2 separate regions of the Homo sapiens genome follow, and region 2 is linked to region 1. Evidence: fine-mapped expression QTL. A gene starts in region 1. The other region holds a variant in brackets. All regions are shown on one strand. Distances are between the middles of the regions.

Region 1 (8,346 bases):
AAGATTACGCATTTTTATTGACATGATACCTTTCAGTCACTTAAGATATCAATTTCTCTCTCGAATTACAGATTTCGTTAAGAGTAATCTACTTCTTCCGTGTCCTTTTTAAAACCTTACAATTTTTTCAGCACCCAGTAGGTCCCTTACAAATGCAGAAGACAATCTCAGTCTTCTTCTTAGACTAGGGTTTCTCAACTAACATTTTGAGCTGGACAATTCGCTGCAGGAAGTTGTCCTCTGCATTGTAGAATGTTTAGCAGTACTCCAGGGTCTATCTGCTACATGCCAATAGCACACCTCTTCCCTCAGTGTGGCAACCAAAAAGTCTCAGACACTGTCAAATATACCCTGGGTACAAAGTCACCTCCCACTGAAAATCACTGCTTTAGGCTAGTTAGACATTCCAGTTAAGATGTATCAAAGTAGTTTATCAATTGATTCCAAAGAATAGTAAGATCAGGTATGTGAGGTGGGCGGCAAGCCACCCAGGCGCCAAGGCAAGAGACCAAGGACACGAGCTGTTCCAGTATAATAAAATATAAAACAAGAATAGTTATACCATATAGATCTTAGAGATATATGAATATCATTAATCATTAGTTTGCAGTAATTACTCTTTATCCCAATATTATAATAATCCTCGCTGTACAATCATAACCTAGGAAAAACCAGGCCATACAGAGATAGGAGCTGAGGGGACATAGTGAGGTGTGACCAGAAGACAAGAGTGCGAGCCTTCTGTTATGCCCGGACAGGGCCAGCAGAAGGGCTCCTTGGTCTAGCGGTAACGCCAGCATCTAGGAAGACGCCCGTTGCCGAGCGGAAGGTGGTCTAGCGGTAGCGAAAAGTGTCAAGGAAAAACACCCGCGACTTAGCAGACCAGGGAAGGGAGGCTCCCTTTCCCCGGGGGAGTTTAGATAAGACTCTGCTCCTCCACCTCTTGTGGAGGGCCTGACATCAGTCAGGCTTGCCCGCAGTTATCCGGAGGCCTAACCGTCTCCCTGTGATGCTGTGCTTCAGTGGTCACGCTCCTAGTCCGCCTTCATGTTCCATCCTGTACACCTGGCTCTGCCTTCTAGATAGCAGTAGTCAATTAGTGAAAGTAGTAAAAGTCTCTGATATGCAGAAATAACGGCATAAGCTATCTTTCTCTCTGTCTCCTCTCTCTCTCTGCCTCGGCTGCCAGGCAGGGAAGGGCCCCCTGTCCTGTGGACACGTGACCCACGTGACCTTACCTATCATTGGAGATGACCCACACTCTTTACCCTGCCCCTTTTGCTTTGTATCCAATAAATAACAGCGCAGCCAGACATTCGGGGCCACTACCGGTCTCCGCGCATTGGTGGTAGCGGTCCCCCGGGCCCAGCTGTCTTTTCTTTTATCTCTTTGTCTTGTGTCTTTATTTCTACACTCTCTCGTCGCCGCACACAGGGAGAGACCCACCGACCCTGTGGGGCTGGTCCCTACAGTGAAATATTTACAAGATGAATTCTTCCCTTTCTCAAGACTTGAAAATTCAACAACAACAACAAAAAAAAAACTCTGTGAACTGTAAACCTTATCTGCTAAAGCAAATAGTTGTCAAAGAAGATTATATAGAATTTTCAATTTTTTGTAAAACTTGTCAACATCATGGTTATCATAAAATGTCACCTATTTTATTAAATTAATATTCCCATTTGTTTACCCAAAAAAGTTTAAGACAAATTTCTTTAGCAATATTTTGAAAGAACAGGAAAAATCAACTCAGATATCTTGCCTTCCAATTTTATTGAGAAATTAGGGTTATCAACAACAGACTGTGCAATAATGATAAAAGCTCGTGACTTCTAGCTTTATAGCAACCACAAAAATAAAAGGCAGCAAAGCTTTACAGAGGCAGAGTTGTGAGCTGATAAAGCTAGGAGAATCCCTGATTGGATGTTCACTAGACACAATATGTGAAAGAAATGGGTTTATTTGCTCAGGCCTATTATAAAGTTAATGTTGGCCACTGGCAGAATACCTTATTCTAAAAATTTAAAAATGAGATGAAAGAAAGTCTCCTTTTCTAGATTTCACCAAAAAAAGACAAAAGGGGAAATAACATAAAATTACGACATTTTTAATTTCAGTTGTGAAAAACTTCAAAATCTTCAAGCAGTATACTCCTCAATGTCATGGTAAAACCATTATCAGAAGAACAGAATATTGGCATCACCTTCGATGTTACCTAGTCCAACCTCCAATTTTAAAGATAAAAGAGAGTAACATTTGATGGCAATGGAACCTCTGACTATATCCATACGTTTTATCTTTTTAAAAAGAAAATGTCTAAAGTAAATATGGCATAATATTATAACATTGAAATATGAGTAATTACATGAAAGTATTATATCATCCAGTATGATTTAAACTTTTCAGAATTTAAAAATATTTTTTCTATAAAGTTTAAATTAAGATGAAGAAACTAAGGCCCAATAAGGTAAGTGGCTTGTCCAACACAGCACACCATTCACTAGGCCTATTCAGATTTCAGATTTGCTACTCCGGTGCGTTTTCAAGTTTCAAATGTTTACAAACTATAAGGAATCACTGGAAAGAATATTGCCAGTATTCTGAAGAAATACTTGATTTCTGCAGAAGATGCTGGTCATTTAATTCCTTAAATGTGTCTTTCTTTACTTACCTTTCCTTTACATTGTATTGAGTGTGGTGGGGGGATGTAAACAAAGAATGTACAGTAGGCCCTCCATATTCACGGACTGAACTAACTGCAGACCAAAAATATTTCGGGGGGAAAAAATAAAAAGTATCAATTCAGCAATAAAAAAATGCAAATTAAAAAACAACAGAACAACTATTTACATAGCACTTACTTATTGGGTATTATAAGCAATCCAGAGATGACCAAAAGTATACAGAAGGATATGCATAGGGTACATACAAATACTAGGCCATTTTATTTAAGGGACTTGAGCAACCTCCAATTTTGGTATGGTCAGGGGTACTGAAGCCAATCCCCCATAGATACCAAGGGACTATTGTATTGTTGGGCAAACCACAGTGAACCAATCAAATGATCAGCCACCTATTAAAAACAGGCTCTTGCCAGGCACTATAGCTCACACCTGTAATCCTAGCACTTTGGGAGGCTGAGGCAGGAGGATCACTTCAGCCCAGGAGTTGGAGGCTGCAATGAGCTACGATCTTGCCACTGCACTCCAGCCTTGGCAACAGAGCAAGTCCTTGTCTCAAAAAGACAAGCCAAAAAAAAAAAACAACAACAACAACAACCAGGCTCTTCCGTAATTCAGGGTATAAACAGCATTGCCCAATATATGTTCCATATACGTAATTATAAATTTTAGAAGCCAAGTTTAAAAAGAAAAAAAGTAAAACTAAAAAACACGGGAAATACACTTTAATATTATATTTAATTTAACCCAATATATTCAAATATTATTTCAACACATAAGCAACATAAAAATTATTGAGGTATTATTTTTTTCTCCTACTTCATTAGGAGTAATGCTTATTCAAAACGATGTTTTAATTCATACAGCAAGTCTCAATTAGCACTAACCTCATATCAAGTGCTCCACAGCTACAGTGGCTAGTGGTTACCCTAGTGGACAGGGGAAGTCTATAGCTATTTGTTGTTGCTTGAATTAAAAGCAGATCCATACATTTGAGTCGTTTTTTGAATTTTCCTCCAAAGCTGACAAAGTTCCCAAACCTTTTGTGGAGTGAGAAAGTCCCAAAGTCCTCAAAGCTTAACACGTAATTCATGCAAACGATTAAGCTCGTTGAAGAGTGTATGTTTAAGTACACTATTTCCTGAATACTTTTATACACTTAATCTCCAGGATAAAAACGTTGGCATAAATTCCTGAGCATGCAACCAAGCAGACACCTAATTAATGACGATGCTGGTCGAGGCTTGAATTTCTCTCTATTGCTCCAAAACAAAATTCAAAATCCTCTTCGTATTGACGGAAAAGTAAATATTAAAGGAAGAAATCATTTTCACAGGAGCTGAAAGCATTAAGAGTAAGAATCCCTAAGCACACGCCTATCTTAAAGATCTCCTGCCCGTTCCTCTCCAAACCCGGTAATCCTAAAGAGAAGGAACCCAGTTCTTGCTCCCTGTAAAATGATAGTGAAGATAACTGCGAGATGCAACTTCCTCCTTTTTTCTTAGTGCCACTTCGAGCGTATATGACCAGACAACCATGCTCACTCCACGCGATACCGAAACAGAAAGGGCTCTGTTTTTATGCTGTAGGGCCAAAGGGGCCACCCTGAGTGCAGCGAGAGGACCACAGAAACGGGCAGGGCGGGGACAGCAGGGCCAGGGCTTGGCCTCGGGGGACGAGAAAGGTGGGAACTTTGGCAGCGCGGGCGGGATCCCGCCGCATCTCCCCAGCCGGAGTCGGGACTGGGACCCCGAGAATCCGCGGGCGGCAGAGGCTCCCGCATCTAGCACCTGCCGCACCGGGATGGGGAGTCTCAGGCGGCGCAGGGAGCAGGGCCCGGGCAGAATCCCGGACGGAGCAGCCCTCGGCTGGGCCCTCAGCGCCCGCAGCCCACTGGCCGCGCCCTCTCGCTTACCGCCCCAGATGCCCAGCTTCAGCTGGGACTTGTTCAGGTTCTCCACATAGTCCCCCAGGAAGCGGTTCAGCAAGTCCGCGACCACCGACTCCAGCACCATGGTGGCGCTGAGGCACAAGGAGAGGGAGGAGCCGGAACCGCCCGGCGCAGCTGAGGGCTGCGACCAGCGCTGCAAATGACAGCCCCTCCGGCGCAGGCCCACCCCCGCGCCGCGCGCGTGACCCCGCCGGTGCGCAGGCGCGCTGTCGCCCGGCCGGTAGCTAAGGAGGCCCAGCTGTGATCCCGAGGCTTTGTAGGCGCCGCAGCCCTGGCCCTCTAGAGGCCGACGGAGGAGTGCGGGGGAAGTTAGCTTGCGCCTGTCTCGTCAGCCGTGCACGAGAAAAAAAAGGACCTTCGAGAAGAACAAGGGAGGGCAAGAGTTACCGAGTACAGGGACATCTATGTGGCCGCTCTGCTTTCCCGCCGTCACCTGCTGTTGAACTCCGGCCGCATCGCGGTGTCCGGAGCCGCCTGGCCTGGAGTATGCGCTGAGCGTCACCTAGGCAACCACCCCTGCACCTGTGGATCAGGTGGGGGAAAGGGACCGACCGCGTTCTTGTCCTGCTAGAGTTCGACTCCGCCTGGGGCTTGGTCTCTGCTTCTTGAAAACATTGTTTTTTTATTTTGTTTCTGTTTTGTTTTGTTTTGAGACAGGGTCTCGCTCTGTTGCCAAGGGTAGAATGCAGTGTCGGGATCATAGCTCACTACAGACTTGACATCCTGGACTCAAGAGATCCTCCTGTGTCAGCCTCCCGAGTAGCTGGGACCACTGGCGCGCGACAAATAATTTGAAAGTGGGAGGAGGGGAACAGAACCACATCAAATGGCAGATATCATAGAATGAGAACTGAATATACGCGTTTTGTGGGAAACGCGTTCTTTTCCCCTTTCTCTAAGATTCGCTTTTAATTCACTAGCCACTAACCAGTTACCTATCTCATTACAGATATAAAAAACAAAACGTAGTAGTGCCTTTTTAAGTATGAGTTACTTGTTATTTATATATCACTTTCTTCCATGCTATCGTTGAACTGTCTTTGATGTAGCACGACCTTAAAAGCAGAGCTTTTATACCACAAGATCTTTCAACCCTTGTGAAATTTAACCACCCATTGAGATTCACCTCTTTAGAGAACTAGAAATTTTTTCCTAAAATATATTTCAAAAAGTTGTTGAGATACAGTACACAGGAAGAAACCTAAGAAATGCTGATTATTTGTAGTCACAAGCATTAATAAGTGCTTTGCTACGAGGAAGTGTCTGAGAAACTATTCGTGTATTTTTCTTAAACAACCTAGGCTTGCACAGGATCACAAAGAAAAATCTTAAATTCAAAGTCCGCTGGAGAAGAAAGAAAATCAAAATGGCTACAATTGGTGTTGTGTATTAAATAAAATTAAAAGTACAAAGAAAGACCCAGTCAGTACTAACTAGTACTATCAAGATCACATTCCTCTCCCACTTTTGCACACTCCATTCCTCTTTAAGAAGATAAATCCTTAACCGTCTGTTTTTCCTAGCTGGTCACAAAGACAAAATACTAGTAAGTACTTTGGATTTCTTCACCATCCACAACCAAATAACAGCCTAACCTGTCTATTTTGCTTTTGCCATCTTTCCTAAATTCTCCATGTTTTTCTTCTGGACCATGCCATCCATCTCCTTGAAATTCACTTCCTAGCCTCCAGTTATTCCTTCCTCCAGTCTATTCTCATGAACACCGGATGTGTTTTCCCAAAGCACAGGTGAGCTTAGGTTAGTCACCTGCTCAAAAACATCCAATAACTTCCCAGTGTTTAGAACACTCTCTTCAAACTTTCTCCACGTTCTTTCTAGTCATACACTCTAACAATCCCGCTTCCTTTTTACATTCACACTGACTATGCTCCAAGAGGAATGTAAAGAAGCAATATATGTTCTGGTTGAGATAAGGCATGTACCATAAAAAGTTAAGAAAGAAGCCAATCCAAGGATGTATGAATAACAGTATAAGATGATAGGAAAGATGGCACAGGCAACATAGCTTGGTCAAGCAGGTGGAGCAATAGGCACAATCTCTTGGGAGAAGTGAGTAACACTAATGCTTTGTCTAATAAAGTAATTCCTTACAGTTCTATGGTATAACTTGGTAATTTTGAAAGAATAATGTGTAAATGTGCTTTCATATGCATCATTCAATTTTATTATGTTTCAGTTATACTTTGTAAGGCCTCATGTCATTATTATGCGAAGGTAGGCATTTTTGTGTACTCCTCACAAAAGAGCTGTGAGGTAGCTAATGCAGGTAGTAGTATGGTCCTCATTTTACAGAAAAATTAAGCTCGGGAATGTTAAGTGACTTACCCAAAGTCACACAGCAGATATTAATTTCCTTTGATTCTCTGAGCACTGCCACCCTTTTCTCTTCTGGTAATTATACAATTTAATCAACACTGGGCTATTAGTCATTTTCAGAGATCTTACTTTGAAAGGTTCATGACAGAAAAAATAAATCTCAGAGTGGAAAATTTGGCTCTACATTTTTGGTACAAAAAAATGCTATTATCATGTAGTATAAAAAGCTTTAAATTTTACTATTTTCCATTTTCAGCATGTTTTAAGGGATTGATTATGTGCATTCAGTAATGCCCCAAATCTTCCATTATTTAACAAGTCAGAAATATACAGTCCCAATTTAAAACAAACTATAACCAATGTCAAGAAACACCATTAGCACCCTTATGTATGGCATTATATCAGAAATAATTTGGATAACAGAGGTTAAAGAAAATGAGCATTCTAATTAATTATAGTTCTTGCCTTCATTCTGGCTTAAGAACAATGAGAATGACAACAAAGGAAATTACAAAACTAAACTTCAATGAGGGACTAAACAATAAAAACAGATGAGCAAAGTATTTCTGTTAAAAACAAAAGTATAAGTTAGGGACACTTAAAAATTAACTCAAAAGTGTTTAAAAAAAAAAAAAAAACTTCACACTAACCACCACCCATACCCTATTCCCCAACCCTAGAGTTTTTGGAGAAAAGCAGAAGGAATTTGGGGGAAAGGAAATGGAGGAGAAAGCTGGAGTATAAGCCATGACACCATGGACTGCAGGAAAAGTTAGGGAGGTTAACTAGGAGAAAGCACGGGAGTGGATTTCAGAATGTTAGTGCCAGAGGGAGGATCATCCTGTTAATCCAGCCCCCTCAATTGACAGATGGAGACACTGAGTGCCAGGGAGAATTAAGGGTTTGCCCAAAGTCCCACAAGTTAGTGACTGTCAGAGCAAAAACCCAAACCCAAGTGTCCTGACTCCCTGCTCTGTATTCTTTCCAGTACCCCATACTCTAGTTGTGTTGAACAAGATGCATAAGTCAGAACACTGGTGTTTTATTGGTTGTAATCTCTCTTCTTGCTTTCCTTGACACTCAACCTCCTATATTTTTGTAAGTATGCTTTAAAATGTTTAATTTCCTTTTACTCTTAGAGCACCTCTGGTCTTGATGGTATGTGGTCTATTCATGCTCACTTTACAGAATTGTTTTCCAGCTCCAATACTGGATGTTCCCACAGCTACAGCTGGGAGCTTGGAACAGCCACTGTCTTCCTGTGAGTAGATTTGTGTGTTCCGGGCACCCTGTTACACCATTCTCCCAAGTACTGGGTGGTTGGTTCGTGCTTCCGAGTTAAGTAAAACATAAGGCTTAACAGGGTCACAGGGACCA
Region 2 (8,346 bases), 42 kb before region 1:
CCAAAATTACCCAAATGCCATTTTGAATTTTTAAAGGAAAGAAAATAACATAAAAATGAGGGGAAAATATATTCATGTTATTCAGACTTTATTAAGTCTAGCATTTGCTAAATTGCACTTTCAAGAACACTATTTCCAAGGAACTCATTCATTCAATTATCAAATATTTATTCAGAAATTAGTATTTAACAGACCCTGTAAATATTTTGCTGAAAAAAAAAAGACATGATCCCTCCAGCAGATATGAATAGCTGTTTCCTGAAAACAGGTGGTAGCAGAGGAGTCTATGGTCAACAAGGTGGGAAAGCTACATACTAAATAGCCCTCTTGGAGATTCACAGTGTTTGTTAACATATCTAAAGCTCTATAGTTTAAAATAAAATGAAACGTATCTGTTTAATTATGTATAGCTTAGTACTTTAATCAATAATCTTACTTGATCAGAGAATATTTTCTCTACAACATCTCAAAATATCTCAATATCTAATAAAGTACCATTTGGGAAGTATTAACTGTATCCTGTATCTTCACTTGATAGGTAAAGAACCTATATCTCAGAACTGGTAAGTGATTACAGAGGGTCACATAGTAAGTAGCAGGGCCAAAACTAGACCCTAGACTTTTAACTCACACTCCAATGGCATATTCTGCTCCATCAATGTTTCTTCAAGAAAATAAATTAAGTGCACCTAGGAAACTAACAAAAATTTTTATTCCAACATAATACCTTGTATATAATTTTGTCTGCTTCATTTAATATGCATGGAGTCCAGTGTTCATTTGCAGTCTAAAAGAAAAAAGGGAATACCTGTGAAACGTGGTATGGATGTCATTAATAGCGCTCTAATACTTACATAATGTAACAAAATAATTTAGGAAGAAATGACATCTACTTAATGTTAACTAGTATTAGCTATCTATTTCTTTACATATATTTATAAGACAAAATCAAAGAAACAATGAAAAGAGAATTGACATGATTCTAATTTGAGTTCATTCATTCAGAAAATAATTACTGGGTTAATATGTATTTGAACTGTGGAAAGAATCAGGTATGAATGAAAACAGAGAGCCAGCCTATACACTATTGAATATGGTATACATTCTTTTTAAAAAAACAAGTAATTGTTTTGTAATAGGAAGAAAACCAGGAGAGTATGGAAATTACAGCATGACCAAGTTTCTACAAGGACAGCATGTTCAGCAACACCAAACACTAAACTTATTTAGCAGCAAGGGCGTTATTGAGAAACTTGTTAAGAACTGTTTCAGTGGAGTAGTAGAGTGAGAGTACAGTGAGCACATAGGTAAAATGAGATCCAGATCAGAGGTGGGAGGATAACTTTAGATTTATAAGTTAGATTGTAATTGCAAAGAAAAATAAATGGTATGGATACAAAAGAGGTAGGTTTACTATTGCTGTAGTTGTTATAATAGCCACTATAATAGCAGGAAATAATTGAGCCAGACAATGTGCCAAAAGCTTTACATAAACTATCTCATTTAATCATCACAAAAACACTAAAAGGTAGGTACTACTTCAGTGAATGAATGTGGTTTTGACAGAAGGAGATTAACATGATAACCAGTACAATAATATTTTACAGGTCTTTGACAAAATACAATAGGAAGCATAAAAGAGGGAATGGTAAATTCTAAGAAGGAAGTGAAAAAGAATGAGAAAGAAAGGTCATATATTACTTAAGTATTAAAACTTGAGTAGAATCACCAGGCAGAAAGTAATACAGACAACTAAAGCAGAATGAAGAGTCTGAGCAAAGATACAAAGGGACAAACAGCAGCAAACACTAAGGAAACTACCCATTCTTATGCAATAGTATACCTGTTATCAGACAATAGGAGGTATATGACTATTTTGTATTTTTTGCATTGTCTGCTAGAAGCTCAAAGTTACTCTGCTCCCTTATGACCACTATCATTAGTCACAGTTTTCTGGAACAATTCTCTCTCTATCCTTTAGAACACAGATTCTATCCTCTTTAAAGGTGTTACTGTATACTTGTTTTTGTCGAAAGCTACCTCAAATTCATTTTGGAAACAGGCAAAGGATAAACTAGTTTCCTCCCATGTTGTAGGTTGCCTGTTCACTCTGATGGTAGTTTCTTTTGCTGTGCAGAAGCTCTTGAGTTTAATTAGATCCCATTTGTCAATTTTGGCTTTTGTTGCCATTGCTTTTGGTGTTTTGGACATGAAGTCCTTGCCCACGCCTATGTCCTGAATGGTAATGCCTAGGTTTTCTTCTAGGGTTTTTATGGTTTATTGCGGCACTATTCACAATAGCAAAGACTTGGAACCAACCCAAATGTCCAACAATGATAGACTGGATTAAGAAAATGTGGCACATATACACCATGGAATACTATGCAGCCATAAAAAATGATGAGTTCATGTCCTTTGTAGGGACATGGATGAAATTGGAAACCATCATTCTCAGTAAACTATCGCAAGAACAAAAAACCAAACACCGCATATTCTCACTCATAGGTGGGAATTGAACAATGAGATCACATGGACACAGGAAGGGGAATATCACACTCTGGGGACTGTGGTGGGGTCGGGGGAGGGGGGAGGGGGGAGGGATAGCATTGGGAGATATACCTAATGCTAGATGACACGTTAGTGGGTGCAGCGCACCAGCATGGCACATGTATACATATGTAACTAACCTGCACAATGTGCACATGTACCCTAAAACTTAGAGTATAATAAAAATAAAAAATAAAAAAAGAAGTCCAAAAAAAAAAAAAAAAAAAAAAAACTAGTTTCCTTCACTGCCTTTCCTTTGTTTCTTCAGCTCTCTCTTTTTCTTTATTGTTTCTGCTCTGTTCTTCAATGCGATGTGTATCTCTACTTCTCTATATGCCCACAACATTGTGAAGCCTTCCACATAACCATGTCCTTCTTTTTCTGTTTCTCTGCCAGTCTACCACCCTACCATTCTTCTTCCTCTTCTTTCCTTATTGAGGCCCTCTCCATATAAGTAGTCATAAGGCAAACTTGTCTGGTATGATATATGGTTCACTGTCCTTAACTTTATTTTATATATATATATATTTTTATTATACTTTAAGTTCTAGGGTACATGTGCACAACGTGCAGATTAGTTACGTATGTATACATGTGCCATGCTGGTGTGCTGCACCCATTAACTCGTCATTTACATTAGGTATATCTCTTAATGCTATCCCTCCCCCCTCCCCCGACCCCACAACAGGCCCCAGTGTGTGATATTCCCCTTCCTGTGTCCAAGTGTTCTCATTGTTCAATTCCCACCTATGAGTGAGAACATGCAGTGTTTGGTTTTTTGTCCTTGCAATAGTTTGCTGAGAATGATGGTTTCCAGCTTCATCCATGTCCCTACAAAGGACATGAACTCATCATTTTTTATGGCTGCATAGTATTCCATGGTGTATATGTGCCACATTTTCTTAATCCAGTCTATCACTGTTGGACACTTGGGTTGGTTCCAAGTCTTTGCTATTGTGAGTAGTGCTGCAGTAAACACATGTGTACATGTGTCTTTAGAGCAGCATGATTTATATTCCTTTGGGTATATACCCAGTAATAGGATGGCTAGGTCAAATGGTATTTCTAGTTCTAGATCCCTGAGGAATCGCCACACTGTCTTCCACAATGGTTGAACTAGTTTACAGTCCCACCAACAGTGTAAAAGTGTTTCTATTTCTCCACATCCTCTCCAGCACCTGTTGTTTCCTGACTTTTCAATGATCGCCATTCTAACTGGTGTGAGATGATATCTCATTGCGGTTTTGATTTGCATTTCTCTGATGGCCAGTGATGATGAGCATTTTTTCATGTGTCTGTTGGCTGCATAAATGTCTTCTTTTGAGAAGCGTCTTCTTTTGAGAAGTGTCTGTTCATATCCTTCGCACACTTGTTGATGGGGTTGTTTTTTTCTTCTAAATTTGTTTGAGTTCTTTGTAGATTCTGGATATTAGCCCTTTGTCAGATGAGTAGGTTGCAAAAATTTTCTCCCATTCTGTAGGTTGCCTATTCACTCTGATGATAGTTTCTTTTGCTGTGCAGAAGCTCTTTAGTTAAATTAGATCCCATTTGTCAATTTTGGCTTTTGTTGCCATTGCTTTTGGTGTTTTAGACATGAAGTCCTTGCCCATGCCTATGTCCTGAATGGTATTGCCTAGGTTTTCTTCTAGGGTTTTTATGGTTTTAGGTCTAACATGTAAGTCTTTAGTCCATCTTGAATTGATTTTTGTATAAGGTGTAAGGAAGGGATCCAGTTTCAGCTTTCTACATATGGCTAG[C/A]CAGTTTTCCCAGCACCATTTGTTAAATAGGGAATCCTTTCCCCATTGCTTGTTTTCGTCAGGTTTGTCAAAGATCAGATAGTTGTAGATGTGTGGTATTATTTCTGAGGGCTCTGTTCTGTTTCATTGGTCTGTATCTCTGTTTTGGTACCAGTACCATGCTGTTTTGGTTACTGTAGCCTTGGAGTATAGTTTGAAGTCAGGTAGCGTGATGCCTCCAGCTTTGTTCTTTTGGCTTAGGATTGACTTGGCAATGTGGGCTCTTTTTTGGTTCCATACGAACTTTAAAGTAGTTTTTTCCAATTCTGTGAAGAAAGTCATTGGTAGCTTGATGGGGATGGCACTGAATCTATAAATTATCTTGGGCAGTATGGCCATTTTCACGATATTGATTCTTCCTATCCATGAGCATGGAATGTTCTTCCATTTGTTTGTGTCCTCTTTTATTTCATTGAGCAGTGGTTTGTAGTTCTCCTTGAAGAGGTCCTTCACGTCCCTTGTAAGTTGGATTCCTAGGTATTTTATTCTCTTTGAATCAATTGTGAATGGGAGTTCACTCATGATTTGGCTCTCCGTTTGTCTGTTATTGGTGTATAAGAATGCTTGTGATTTTTGCACATTGATTTTGTATCCTGAGACTTTGCTGAAGTTGCTTATCAGCTTAAGGAGATTTGGGGCTGAGACGATGGGGTTTTCTAGATATACAATCATGTCATCTGCAAACACGGACAATTTGACTTCCTCTTTTCCTAATTGAATACCCTTTATTTCTTTCTCCTGCTTGACTGCCCTGGCCAGAACTTCCAACACTATGTGGAATAGGAGTGGTGAGAGAGGGCATCCCTGTCTTGTGCCAGTTTTCAAAGGGAATGCTTCCAGTTTTTGCCCATTCACTATGATATTGGCTGTGGGTTTTTCATAAATAGCTCTTATTATTTTGAGATACATCCCATCAATACCTAATCTATTGAGAGTTTTTAGCATGAAGGGCTGTTGAATTTTGTCAAAGGCCTTTTCTGCATCTATTGAGATAATCATGTGGTTTTTGTCTTTGGTTCTGTTTATATGCTGGATTACATTTATTGATTTGCGTATGTTGAACCAGCCTTGCATCCCAGGGATGAAGCCTTCTTGTCCATGGTGGATAAGCTTTTTGATGTGCTGCTGGATTCGGTTTGCCAGTATTTTATTGAGGATTTTTGCATCGATGTTCATCAAGGATATTGGTCTAAAATTCTCTTTTTTGGTTGTGTCTCTGCCAGGCTTTGGTATCAGGATGCTGCTGGACTCATAAAATGAGTTAGGGAGGATTCCCTCTTTTTCTATTGATTGGAATAGTTTCAGAAGGAATGGTACCAGCTCCTCCTTGTACCTCTGGTAGAATTCGGCTGTGAATCCGTCTGGTCCTGGACTTTTTTTGGTTGGTAAGCTATTAATTATTGCCTCAATTTCAGAGCCTGTTATTGATCTATTCAGAGATTCAACTTCTTCCTGGTTTAGTCTTGGGAGGGTGTATGTGTCGAGGAATTTGTCCATTTCTTCTAGATTTTCTAGTTTATTTGCGTAGAGGTGTTTATAGTATTCTCTGATGGTAGTTTTGTATTTCTGTGGGATCGGTGGTGATATCCCCTTTACTATTTTTTATTGCGTCTATCTGATTCTTCTCTCTTTTCTCCTTTACTAGTCTTACTAGCAGTCTATCGATTTTGTTGATCTTTTCAAAAAACCAGCTCCTGGATTCATTGATTTTTTGAAGGGTTTTTTGTGTCTCTATTTCCTTCAGTTCTGCTCTGATCTTAGTTATTTCTTGCCTTCTGCTAGCTTTTGAATGTGTTTGCTCTTGCTGCTCTAGTTCTTTTAATTGTGATGTTAGGGTGTCAATTTTAGATCCTTCCTGCTTTCTCTTGTGGGCATTTAGTGCTGCAAATTTCCCTCTACACACTGCTTTTAATGTGTCCCAGAGATTCTGGTATGTTGTGTCTTTGTTCTCGTTGGTTTCAAAGAACATCTTTATTTCTGCCTTCATTTCGTTATGCACCCAGTAGTCATTCAGGAGAAGGTTGTTCAGTTTCCATGTAGTTGAGTGGTTTTGAGTGAGTTTCTTAATCCTGAGTTCTAGTTTGATTGCACTGTGGTCTGAGAGACTGTTTGTTATAATTTCTGTTCTTTACATTTGCTGAGGAGTGCTTTACTTCCAACTATGTGGTCAATTTTGGAATAGGTGAGGTGTGGTGCTGAGAAGAATGTATATTCTGTTGATTTGGGGTGGACAGTTCTGTAGATGTCTATTGGGTCTGCTTGGTGCAGAGCTGAATTCAATTCCTGTACTGTCCTTAACTTTAAAAGTATCTAAGTGAACCACATCTTCCTCTCCATACATGCCCCAAAACATGTTTCCTACCACTTAGTTGCCTGTAATAGAAATAAAAATGTCCAGCCTATATATATATATACATATATATATATGTATGTGTGTATATATATACAGACACACACTGTCTACTGTTAAAGACCATTAAAAGAAAAACTCATTATAAAATAATCAAAATAAATTAATTTACATATTGCCCAATGAGATGAGTGTGCGCACACACACACACATACATAAACATATGCATATCTATAAGCTATTTAGAAATTCCATCTACCTATACCGAAGATGAGTACATGACTCTACAGAAATTCATCTTCCCCTACTTCCCCCACATGTTTAAGATACAGCTTTTATTTCTTTCAAATCATTTGATAATGATATTTTGATACCTGTTACACAGAAAGACAAAAATAATTTTAAAATGTAATAATAGCATCACTAAAAATGTTAAACTTCTAGAAAAGTTGTTTAGCATGATAATATATTTAAAAAATCATAGTTCTTTGTCGCATAGTTGATTCTAGACAATTTACCCTGTGACTTCAGAATAATACTTTACAGGTTCCATAGAAGTTTAAAATAAAGCAAACATTACCAGTAGACTAAGCTCTCCCAGTGTGACACCAAATGAAAGAGGCCGCTTTGGATCAGTGACCTACCAAAGAAGAAAAGATAACAGTAAAATATGCTGATGGTGAAGGCGAATCCATGTCCTTTACAATAGGCAGCAGAGGGAAATGTGTTTACAGGTTAAGCCATACAACCCAAATGGATTTGTGGAAAACACAGGGGAAGGAGGTAATAACATGGCTGGGATTATCCATATTTTGTAGACATAACATTTCTATGCTACCAATAAGATCCTTTCCCAGTGGAACTCTTTTCATACTAGAAGATGACTCACTAACTATGACTAACAAGACTTCTCTCTAGACAGTTAAAAAGGAATAATCTTTTTATGTGTATAATCAAAGATTTTTTCACAGATAAATTTTAAAAGGTGTTACAGATAACACTGCCACTAAATCATTTTAATAACACTTAGGGTACATAGTGGAATACTATTCAGCCATAAAAAAGGAAAACATGTTTGTTTGGGTTTTTTTGCAGCAACATGGATGGAACTGGAGGCCATTATCTTAAGTGAAACAACCCAGAAGCAGAAAAACAAACTGCACGTTCTCACTTATAAGTGGCAGCTAAATAATGAATACACGTGGTCAGTGTGTGGAATAATACACATTGGAGACTTGAAAGGGTAGGGTGGGTGAGAAGTAGGTGTAAATGATAGGAAATTTATTAATGGGTACAATGTATATTATGGGTGATGGAGACACTAAAAGTTCAGACTTCACCACTATGCAGTATATCATGTAACAACACTGCACTTGTACTCCTTAAATTTACACATTTTAAAAAAAAGGCTTTCATACTTGGAAATATGAACTATCTCTTTAAGCCTTTAATGTTCTTAACACTTCAAAATGCTTCTAGGAAAATCTCTAGATCCTTAATATTTAATTTCTTTAGTCTCTATATCCAAAATCTGTCAACATTAAGTTTTTGTTGTATTTCTGATCTTCAATATCTAAGTTGCAATCCACAGTGCTTAAACTATACCACAGTGTGCACAGTATCACCATTTTAGACATCTTAAAGAAAAGTCTT

Which allele goes with the higher level. Positions count from the first base shown, and alleles are read on the strand shown. Sizes are in standard deviations (SD) of each study's normalised expression.
As copies of A replace C in region 2, the expression in prefrontal cortex of the gene that starts at base 4,769 in region 1 goes down (small effect, 0.37 SD a copy in BrainSeq).

What was found.
Region 2: its variant is fine-mapped to the expression of VPS13C in prefrontal cortex (BrainSeq, PIP 0.95).

Annotation. Positions count from the first base shown.
Region 1 is chr15:62,055,679-62,064,024 of GRCh38, forward strand. It overlaps VPS13C (vacuolar protein sorting 13 homolog C), which reads right to left and starts at 4,769. Exons shown (of 85, transcript NM_020821.3): 1 at 4,597-4,769. The coding sequence starts at 4,696. VPS13C-DT (VPS13C divergent transcript) reads left to right here and starts at 4,825. Exons shown (of 2, transcript NR_135690.1): 1 at 4,825-5,165; 2 at 5,290-6,756. RefSeq lists a silencer at 4,631-4,980 and an enhancer at 5,031-5,080.
Region 2 is chr15:62,013,206-62,021,551 of GRCh38, forward strand. VPS13C (vacuolar protein sorting 13 homolog C) reads right to left here. Exons shown (of 85, transcript NM_020821.3): 9 at 7,274-7,333; 10 at 728-787. Among named protein-coding and RNA genes, the nearest start is that of VPS13C, 43 kb to the right of the region's middle. The variant C/A (reference allele first, on the strand shown) is at 4,305.